Regions from separate parts of the Homo sapiens genome. Here regions 1 and 3 are each linked to region 2. The links come from fine-mapping of genetic effects on gene expression. A gene starts in region 2. Each other region holds a variant in brackets. All regions are shown on one strand. Distances are between the middles of the regions. Region 1 has its middle 190 kb from the start of PRDM13. Region 2 holds the start of CCNC (cyclin C). Region 3 overlaps USP45 (ubiquitin specific peptidase 45).

Evidence for each region.
Region 1: its variant is fine-mapped to the expression of CCNC in whole blood (INTERVAL, PIP above 0.99).
Region 3: its variant is fine-mapped to the expression of CCNC in whole blood (TOPMed, PIP above 0.99).

The regions. Positions count from the first base shown.
Region 1 is chr6:99,798,560-99,801,328 of GRCh38, forward strand. No RefSeq gene overlaps it. Among named protein-coding and RNA genes, the nearest start is that of PRDM13, 190 kb to the left of the region's middle. The variant T/A (reference allele first, on the strand shown) is at 1,216.
Region 2 is chr6:99,567,175-99,569,943 of GRCh38, forward strand. It overlaps CCNC (cyclin C), which reads right to left and starts at 1,486. Exons shown (of 12, transcript NM_005190.4): 1 at 1,322-1,486. The coding sequence starts at 1,353. It also overlaps the pseudogene TSTD3. RefSeq lists enhancers at 1,184-1,263, 1,384-1,673, 1,794-1,843.
Region 3 is chr6:99,480,276-99,483,044 of GRCh38, forward strand. It overlaps USP45 (ubiquitin specific peptidase 45), which reads right to left. Exons shown (of 18, transcript NM_001346022.3): 8 at 2,478-2,608. Among named protein-coding and RNA genes, the nearest start is that of USP45, 34 kb to the right of the region's middle. The variant T/C (reference allele first, on the strand shown) is at 1,582.

The DNA.
Region 1 (2,769 bases), 230 kb after region 2:
TCCATTTCTCATCATTGACATTACTTTTAGAGATGTGACACATTTATTATCTCATTTTTTCATCTGAAAATAGATCTATTTTATCTGAAAATGAGATAATAAATATATCGCATCCCTAAAAGTAATGGCAATGACAACAAAAAATGGAAAATGTTTTTAGTAATGGTAGTGTAGTTGGAACAAGCATGTAAACTTCCCAGATCTTTGAAAGATAACAATCATTTAGATATTTAAATTTTGAAACATTTGTTAATAAATCATTTATATTACAAGTTGAGTATTCCTTATCCAAAATGATTGGGATCAGAAATTGTTTTGATTTTGGATTTTATAATATTTGCATTATTTATTGGTTGAGCATCCCTAATCCAAAAACCCCAAATCTGAGATGCTCCAATGAGCATTTCCTTTGAGAGTCATATTAGTGCTCAAAAATTTTGGATTTCAGAGAATTTTGGATATTGGATTTTCAGATTATGGATGCTCAGCCTGTATTTCCTATGTCAAATCTTGGATACTTGTTGAGAAAATAAAATTTTACTTTAAAGGACAGTCTATTTTCTCACCGAGGGTCACAAAACCCATCATTTTGAATTTTAGTAACTGGATAAAGAAGAATAATTCTTTGCTTTCAAAAACTTTCAGTGAGACAACCAACTATTATCGAACCTGCTGCATTGGGTTATAATGTATGTAAACATGGGAATGATAATATTTCATTTTTGCCATGTAATAACCTCACAATCTCAATAATAAATCTTTGTATCCATGATCATGGGTCTGCCGTTTGGATGAGGATTGGTTGATCTAGGTTTGGCTTGGCTGGGCCAAGCTGGACTTCAAGTTCAGGTGTGTTACCTGTGTTTTCTTTCTGAGGTCCAGGTGGAAGGGGCAGCAACAACTTGGGGTTTGCCCTCATCATGATGGATCCCAGGATGGCAAGAGAGCAAACCAAACCAGGTAAACAGATTTAAAGCCTCTGCTCTTGTCTGCCTGCATTCATTGGCTTAAAAAAGTCACATGGTTAAACCCATTGTTGATGGATTGTGGAAGAATAGGCTGCCCACAGTAGGAGGCACGTGGCAAAGAAAGTAGAGGTATAATCTACTGGAGGTAGTAAAAATTGGAGAATAGTAATTCATTGTAACAGGAATTTTTAGAAAAATATTTTAGAAAAATATTTATTTCAAGATGGTATGCTTGATTAGTTTAGTG[T/A]CTTATTTTATTTTATTTTATTTTATTTTATTTTATTTTATTTTATTTTATTTTATTTTTTGAGACAGAGTCTTGCTTTGTTGCCCAGGCTGGAGTGCAGTGGTGCGATATTGGCTCACTGCAAGCTCCGCCTCCCGGGTTCACGCCATTCTCCTGCCTCAGCCTCCCGAGTAGCTGGGACTACAGGCACCAGCCACCACGCCTGGCTAATTTTTTTGTATTTTTAGTAGAGACGGGGTTTCACCGTGTTAGCCAGGATGGTCTCGATCTCCTGACCTTGTGATCCGCCCGCCTCGGCCTCCCAAAGTGCTGGGATTACAGGCATGAGCCACCGCGCCTGGCCATTTAGTGTCTAATTTAATCTGGAAAGTACAAAGTATGGATTTTCAAGTGTTGAATGTGGCTGAAACAATGCTATGTTGTTCATCAAACCTATTTCTTTTTCCTTTTGGGCATTTAGATAAACTGCATTTTCAGCCTTCCCTGTAGGTAAGTGGGACTGTGGAACTGAGTTCTGGCAAATGGAATGTGAGCAGGAGTGATGTACACTCCTTGTAGGCCTGCTTGGCTCCTATACATTTCATGAGATCCTCCACATTTCCCTCTTCCCTTGTCTTCTAGTTAGACGCTGAGGATCTAGGGGATGACTTTAAGATGCTAGAAGAAAGTGCTGAAACCACCAGAGGGAAGCAGCCCGAGTCCCTGAATCACCACATGGCAGGTTTCCTGTTGGACAACAGTGTGAACTGTGACATAAGAAAGAAATCAATTGTCTAAGCCATTGAGATTTGGGGATTGTTTGTTACCGGGCTTAGTCTACACAATTTAAAGATCATGAGGTGTTGAGCTGAATCAGAAAGTTTCATAAATCCTTTAGGCTATGGATAGGGACAGGGTCTTAATTATCCTTTTATTTTTTATACTTAGCATGCATTATATTTAAGAAATTTATTGCATTTTGCCTCATCAAGGAAACCCTTAAAACCAACTAATTTCATGGAGAAAGTGTCCTTTCTGCATCTCTTGAAACTTCACAGAGTGTAGAAATGGCTGCACCATATTTCTCCCAGATAATGACCATAAATCTGAAAAAGTCTCAATCCAGCTTTAGCCTTTCCCTACCTTTTGGTCACAGGAATCATACTTTCAGAATCAGAAAGAGAACTTGTCCATGGGAATGACAGAATATTTGGAATCTGGATTGCCTTGAAGAATCACCATATGTTTAGCAAGGTCTTTAGTTTAGCTTCATACCTCCAGTAGATTTTAGGGATCATTGCCATGGCAGTCTTTCAATTTCTCTTGGGACAGTTGATAAAATGAGCCAATGTCTACAGATTCATTATTGGTCATTAAAAACAAATATTTTTAATTCCAAGAATAGGGTAACTTCATCAACTCATGCAAAACTTTACCAGGACTGGCTGTAGGTAAAATTATAAGATGGACTTAATTTGTCTTTGGTATCCTTCTACATTCCCTTTAAGCATCTTTCTCCCTTTCCTAACAATCCTAAGAAGCAGGCTATTCATGCTTATATACCAAACAATTAGA
Region 2 (2,769 bases):
AGGCAGGATCTTTTTTTTTTAAGTTGAAAAACTGAAAAATCAACAGTCAGCTACTTGTCAATTCTCTCAGCTTCTTTCAGAGTTTATCAGAATATCTCTTCTCCACTACCTAAACTTTTTTTTTCAGGAGCTCTAACTCCAATACCTAAACTTTCGATACTTTAATTTTGCCCAAGCAATATTTCAGTGTGTGAAAACAATGCAACATATATACACACACATATATATATACATACACACACACACATATATATACACACACACACATATGATCAGTGGTAAAGCTTCTTTAACATGTCATCTCCACAGAATCACTTTATAGCAAGAGGAAAACCTGCTTTTCCTTAAATAGGTTACTGAGTTCATTGTTTCTTTTTTTCTCTTTGCAAAGGGCTAAAAAATGAACATCAGGAACAGATCCTATTCACAGAATCGAAATTTAAATTACTTACTAATGCTTTCTTAGCATAAAAAATTATACCAAGATACCTTGTCAAATTCTGTTCATCTTTCAACTATACAGTGGAAAGCCTACTCAAATGTTCAATTTACCCCATAACGCACCTTCCTGCCTGCTTAAACAAATGTATTTAGGGATAAATGTTTTTAATATTATTCTAGCTCTCACATGGTCACTGACAGAAACAAGAACTTATTCATGAAAAAGGTTAAAGAAACAGGTAAACAAAGTCACTGGAAAAATAGGCCTTTAAAACAAAATATAAAGCACAGGCTAATGAAATGGATAAATTTAGAGGGCACCTGCCCTATACCTTATCAATATAAAACTCCATCTAGACATAAAGTACGCGCAAGAAGCGGTTAGTAGGCAGAAACAAGCCAGACTCTCTCCTCTCCTCATAATATTAAATCCACTCAAGATATACAGTGAATGACAAAAGACCACGACGCCGATCACCCGAAGAAACCCCAGGTAAAAGCACGCCACAACTGTCCTGAACAGGTAGCCTCACAGTCTTGAGCTGAGTCACACTTCCCGTACCTGTGCCCACTCTATCCGACCCCCCGCGGCCTAGCTAAACCAAGAATCCGAAATTAAACTCCGAAACGTTCCTTCCCGGGAGACGAAACTCTCTCCCACCCCTCCCCCTCACAGATCCTTCCCTCCCCGAAACTGGGGCTGGGGGCGGGGAGGGGAGTCGCCTCAGAAAAGCGCATCTTGATTCTGACCGCTGCGGTCTCCCGTGAGGACCCCGGCACTCGGAACTGAGCTGGGATCCAGGCCCAGGGGAGTCACAGGCCCCGTCCTCACAGCTCCCCCAAAAACCGGCCCCAGGTGAGAAGACGGAAGATCGCTTACTAGTGGGAGCTCTGCCAAAAGTTCCCTGCCATGGAACACAGCTTGCCCTGATAAAAAAGCACCAGCCGGCGGAGCGGCCCGCGGAGCGACCATAGACCCAGCCCGTCCGGTAACCGCGCTCCTCGATCAAATCAGCTCGGCTCGACTCCGCTCCGCGGCGGCGACGGCGAAAGGAAGAGGATGGCCCCCTAGTCTCCTTCACGCCGGCCGACAACACTCAACTGTGCAAACCCGTTCCTATCGACAAAAGTTCCGGCCCGCGGTAGCGGAGGGAGCCGGAGGGGAGGTGCTGACCCTTGGAGGTGCTGAGATTGAAGAGAACTAGTGTTCACGAGAGCTCGCGGCGGTTGGAAGGCTCTCGCGAGAGCGTCTTGAGAATTCTGGCCGGGGGCCCAAGCCGCTCGGTCTCCTGTCTTCAGCACGGGAGTTGCTGAGTGGGTCTAACCTAGGCGAAGTGGCTCAGATACGGGGTTCTGTTATTACCTCTTCCAGGACTTCAAAAACAGAACAATGTGGCATTGTAATAAAGTACAAGGTTTTGTGACTTATTTTTCCTGTGATTGGAAAGAGAAATAAATGAAGATGACTTTGTTCTCAGGGATCAAGTGTTCCTTTTTTTTTTTTACTTTATTTATTTATTTATTTTGAGACGGAGTCTTGCTCTGTCTCCAGGCTGGAGTGCAGTGGCACGATCCCGGCTCACTGCAAGCTCCGCCTCCAGGAGTTCAAGCGATTCTCCTGCCTCAGCCTCCCGAGTAGCTGGGACTGCAGGCGCGCACCACCATGCCCAGCTAATTTTTGTATTTTTAGTAGAGATAGGGTTTCACCATGTTGGCCAGGATAGTCTCAAACTCCTGACCTCGTGATCCGCCCTCCTCAACCTCCCAAAGTGCTGGGATTACAGGCGTAAGCCACCGCACCCTGCCTGTTTTTTACTTTTGAGACGGAGTCTGGGTCTGTCACCCAGGATGGAATGCAGTGGCACAATCTCGGCTCACAGCAACCTCTGCCTTTCCAGTTCAAATGATTCTGCTGCCTCAGCCTCCCAGGTAGCTGGGATTACAGGGATTACAGGCGCGTGCCACCACGTCCATCTAATCTTTGTATTTTTAGTGGAGAGGGGATTTCGCTAGGCTGGTCTGGAACTCCTAACCTCAGGTGATCCGTCAGCCTCAGCCTCCCAAAATGCTGGGATTAACAGGCGTGGGCTACCAGGCCCGGCCTGGATCAGGCGGTTTTTTTTTTTTTTTTTTTTTGAGACGGAGTCTTGCTCTGTCGCCCAGGTTGGAGTGCAGTGGCGCTATCTAGGCTCATTGCAACCTCTGCCTCCCAGGTTCAAGCGATTCTCCTGCCTCAGCCTCCCAAGTAGCTGGGACTACAGGCTCACACCACCACGCCCAGCTAATTTTTGTATTTTTAGTAGAGACAGGGTTTCACCATGTTGGCCA
Region 3 (2,769 bases), 87 kb before region 2:
CATACATGAAAAGATTCAACATTGTTAAGATGTTGATTCTCCCCAAATTGATCTACACATTCAAAACAATCCCAACTGACAATCTGATTCTATAATTTACATAAAAAAGCAAAGGACCGGCCAGGCGCAGTGGCTCACGCCTGTAACCCTGGCACTTTGGGAGGCCAAGGTGGGCAGATCACCTGAGGTTGGGAGTTCAAGACCAGCCTGACCAACATGGAGAAACCCCATCTCTAGTAAAAATACAAAATTAGCCGGGTGTGGTAGCGGGCGCCTGTAATCCCAGGCTGAGGCAGGAGAATTGCTTGAACCCAGGAGGTGGAGGCTGTGGTAAGCCAAAATCATACCATTGCACTCCAGCCTGGGCAACAAGAGCGAAACTCCGTCTCAAAAAAAAAAAAGAGGACCTAGAATAGTTTGAAAAGGATGACCAAAATTTGAGAACTTATGCTACTCAATTGCAAGACTTACTATGAAGCTACAGTAATCAAGACAGTGTAGGCTTTGGGGTAAAGACAAGACATGTAGATCAATGAAACAGAATATAGTTCAGAAATAAACCCAAACACATGTGGCTTAAATCTTTACTTGATTTTAAAAAAATATATTTGTCTAATGTATACTTCTTTTAAAAGTAAACGCCATAAAACAAACAAAAAAAAGGCAATTTAAAACTTTTCAGCCAAGCATGGATGACGCTCATGCCTGTAATCCCAGCTACTTGGGAGGTTGAGCAGGGAGGCATGCTTGAGCCCAGGAATTCGACTATGATTGGGCCACTGCACTTGAGCCTGGGCACAGAGCGAGACCCTGTCTCCTAAAAAATACAAAAAATACATAAAAATCTTCAAATAATGTTTGATCTAGTTATTCTAAGAATTTATCCTACAGATGTACTTCCGCAAGTACAGTGTATTCATACAAAACTGAGTAAGTTATACACACATGTGCTAACATGGAAAGATGTATAAAATATATCAAGCAAGTTGCAAAAAATTTGCATATGTCTGTGTATGTATGATCACTTTTGGAAAGAATCAGATAATAGTTACTTCTGAGGAGTAAAGATAGAGAGGAGTTTGAATTTTTATCTATGAGTGCCCATTATTTTAATAGTAATTTTTAAAATGTTAATAAACCTTTATAACCAGGAAGAAAACTATACAAAACAAGTTATTTCTGGCAAAGTCAGAAACAAATTTCTAAAGCATACAATGACCTAGTAACTTTTTTTGTTTTAATTTCAACTTTTATTTTAGATTCAAGGGGTACATGTGCAGGTTTGTTATCTGGGTATATTGTGTGATGCAAAGGTCCGGAGTACGAATGATCCCGTCACTCAGGTACTAAGCATAGTACCGAATAGTTAGTTTTTCAACCCTTCCTCCCTCAATCTCTCCCACCTCTAGTAATCCCCACTCTCTACTGTTGCCATCTTTATGTCCATGAGTACCCAATGTTTAGCTTCCACTTATGAGAACATGTGGTATCTGGTTTTCTGTTCCTGCATTAATTCACTTAGAATAATGGCCTCCAGCTGCATCCATGTTGTCGCAAAGAATATGATTTCATTCTTTATTA[T/C]GGCTGTGCTAAAAACTTTTTAACTCTGTGAGACACTCATGCCTCTGAGAATTTTGCAGGTTTTTTTGGTCCTCAGGCTTTGAAGAAACATCATTTGCCAACCAAATGAAACATACACTAAGCCCTCTATTTTGGACTATATTTAAAATATCATGGCATTCATTACTAGTTTTAATTAAAATGAGATTTTAAAGTCTATAGATATACAAAAACACAAGCTCATATTCAAATAATTTTCCTTCTACATATTTTAGTAATTGTGGACTGGACTAGCTTGTGAGTTCCATGAGGACAGGGTGCATTTGTGACGCAATATATGTTGTGTACCCCTGAATTGTAGCAAGTACCTCATAAAAAGCAAGCTCTCAATTTTTTATATAAATGAATACATGAATGCATTAAAGTCAAGTCAGATCCTTTATGTGTTTATTTCCAGGCACATAAGGATTTGGTTTTTAAACATACTGTAATACCTTGAGAAATTCACTTAAACTCTATTTGCCTCACAGCTCATCTTTTAAAATAAGAAAGCTAGATTAGATGTTATCTTACGGTACTTTCTAGATTTTACAACTCTATGGTTTTCTCACTTTATGGTATTACAACATAGGCATCCAAGTCAGGACAGATCTCCATTTGATTCTCAGCTTTTCACTCAGACTAGGTGAGCCATTTAATTTCTGTGTCTCCATTTCCTTATATATGAGGATAAGCTGCTTCTTCTGAGGACTGAGATATAATTTTCATAAAGCATAGAGCTGTAACAAATTTTAGTTCTCTTCATAGTCAGGGCAATAAGAGCAAAGTTACAGTAAAAACGACTATTCATGTTAAATGATGAATACATTAGTATTTTGTAACTCATAATTATTTATATTAAATGTAGATGCACCCACTTCTGACAAAGCTGATTAAAAAGAACTTTAGGAGAAAGTGGTCCTTTTTCAGTCTCCTTCATGCTGTGAAGAAACAGGAACAAGGCTGAGGTCAGTGGTCCAGGCCTTGAAAGTTCCACCACCAATGGGTCCTTTAAAAACATGATCAACTCTATGTCAGAAATGTACAATTTAAAAATAACATATTAAAAATCTGTGAGTTACACTCTGCTTAAATAACACCAACTAAATTGCCTCAATTGTATTAAGAAACTTTATTATTTCATAAATAAAATATATAAAAATGGAAAAC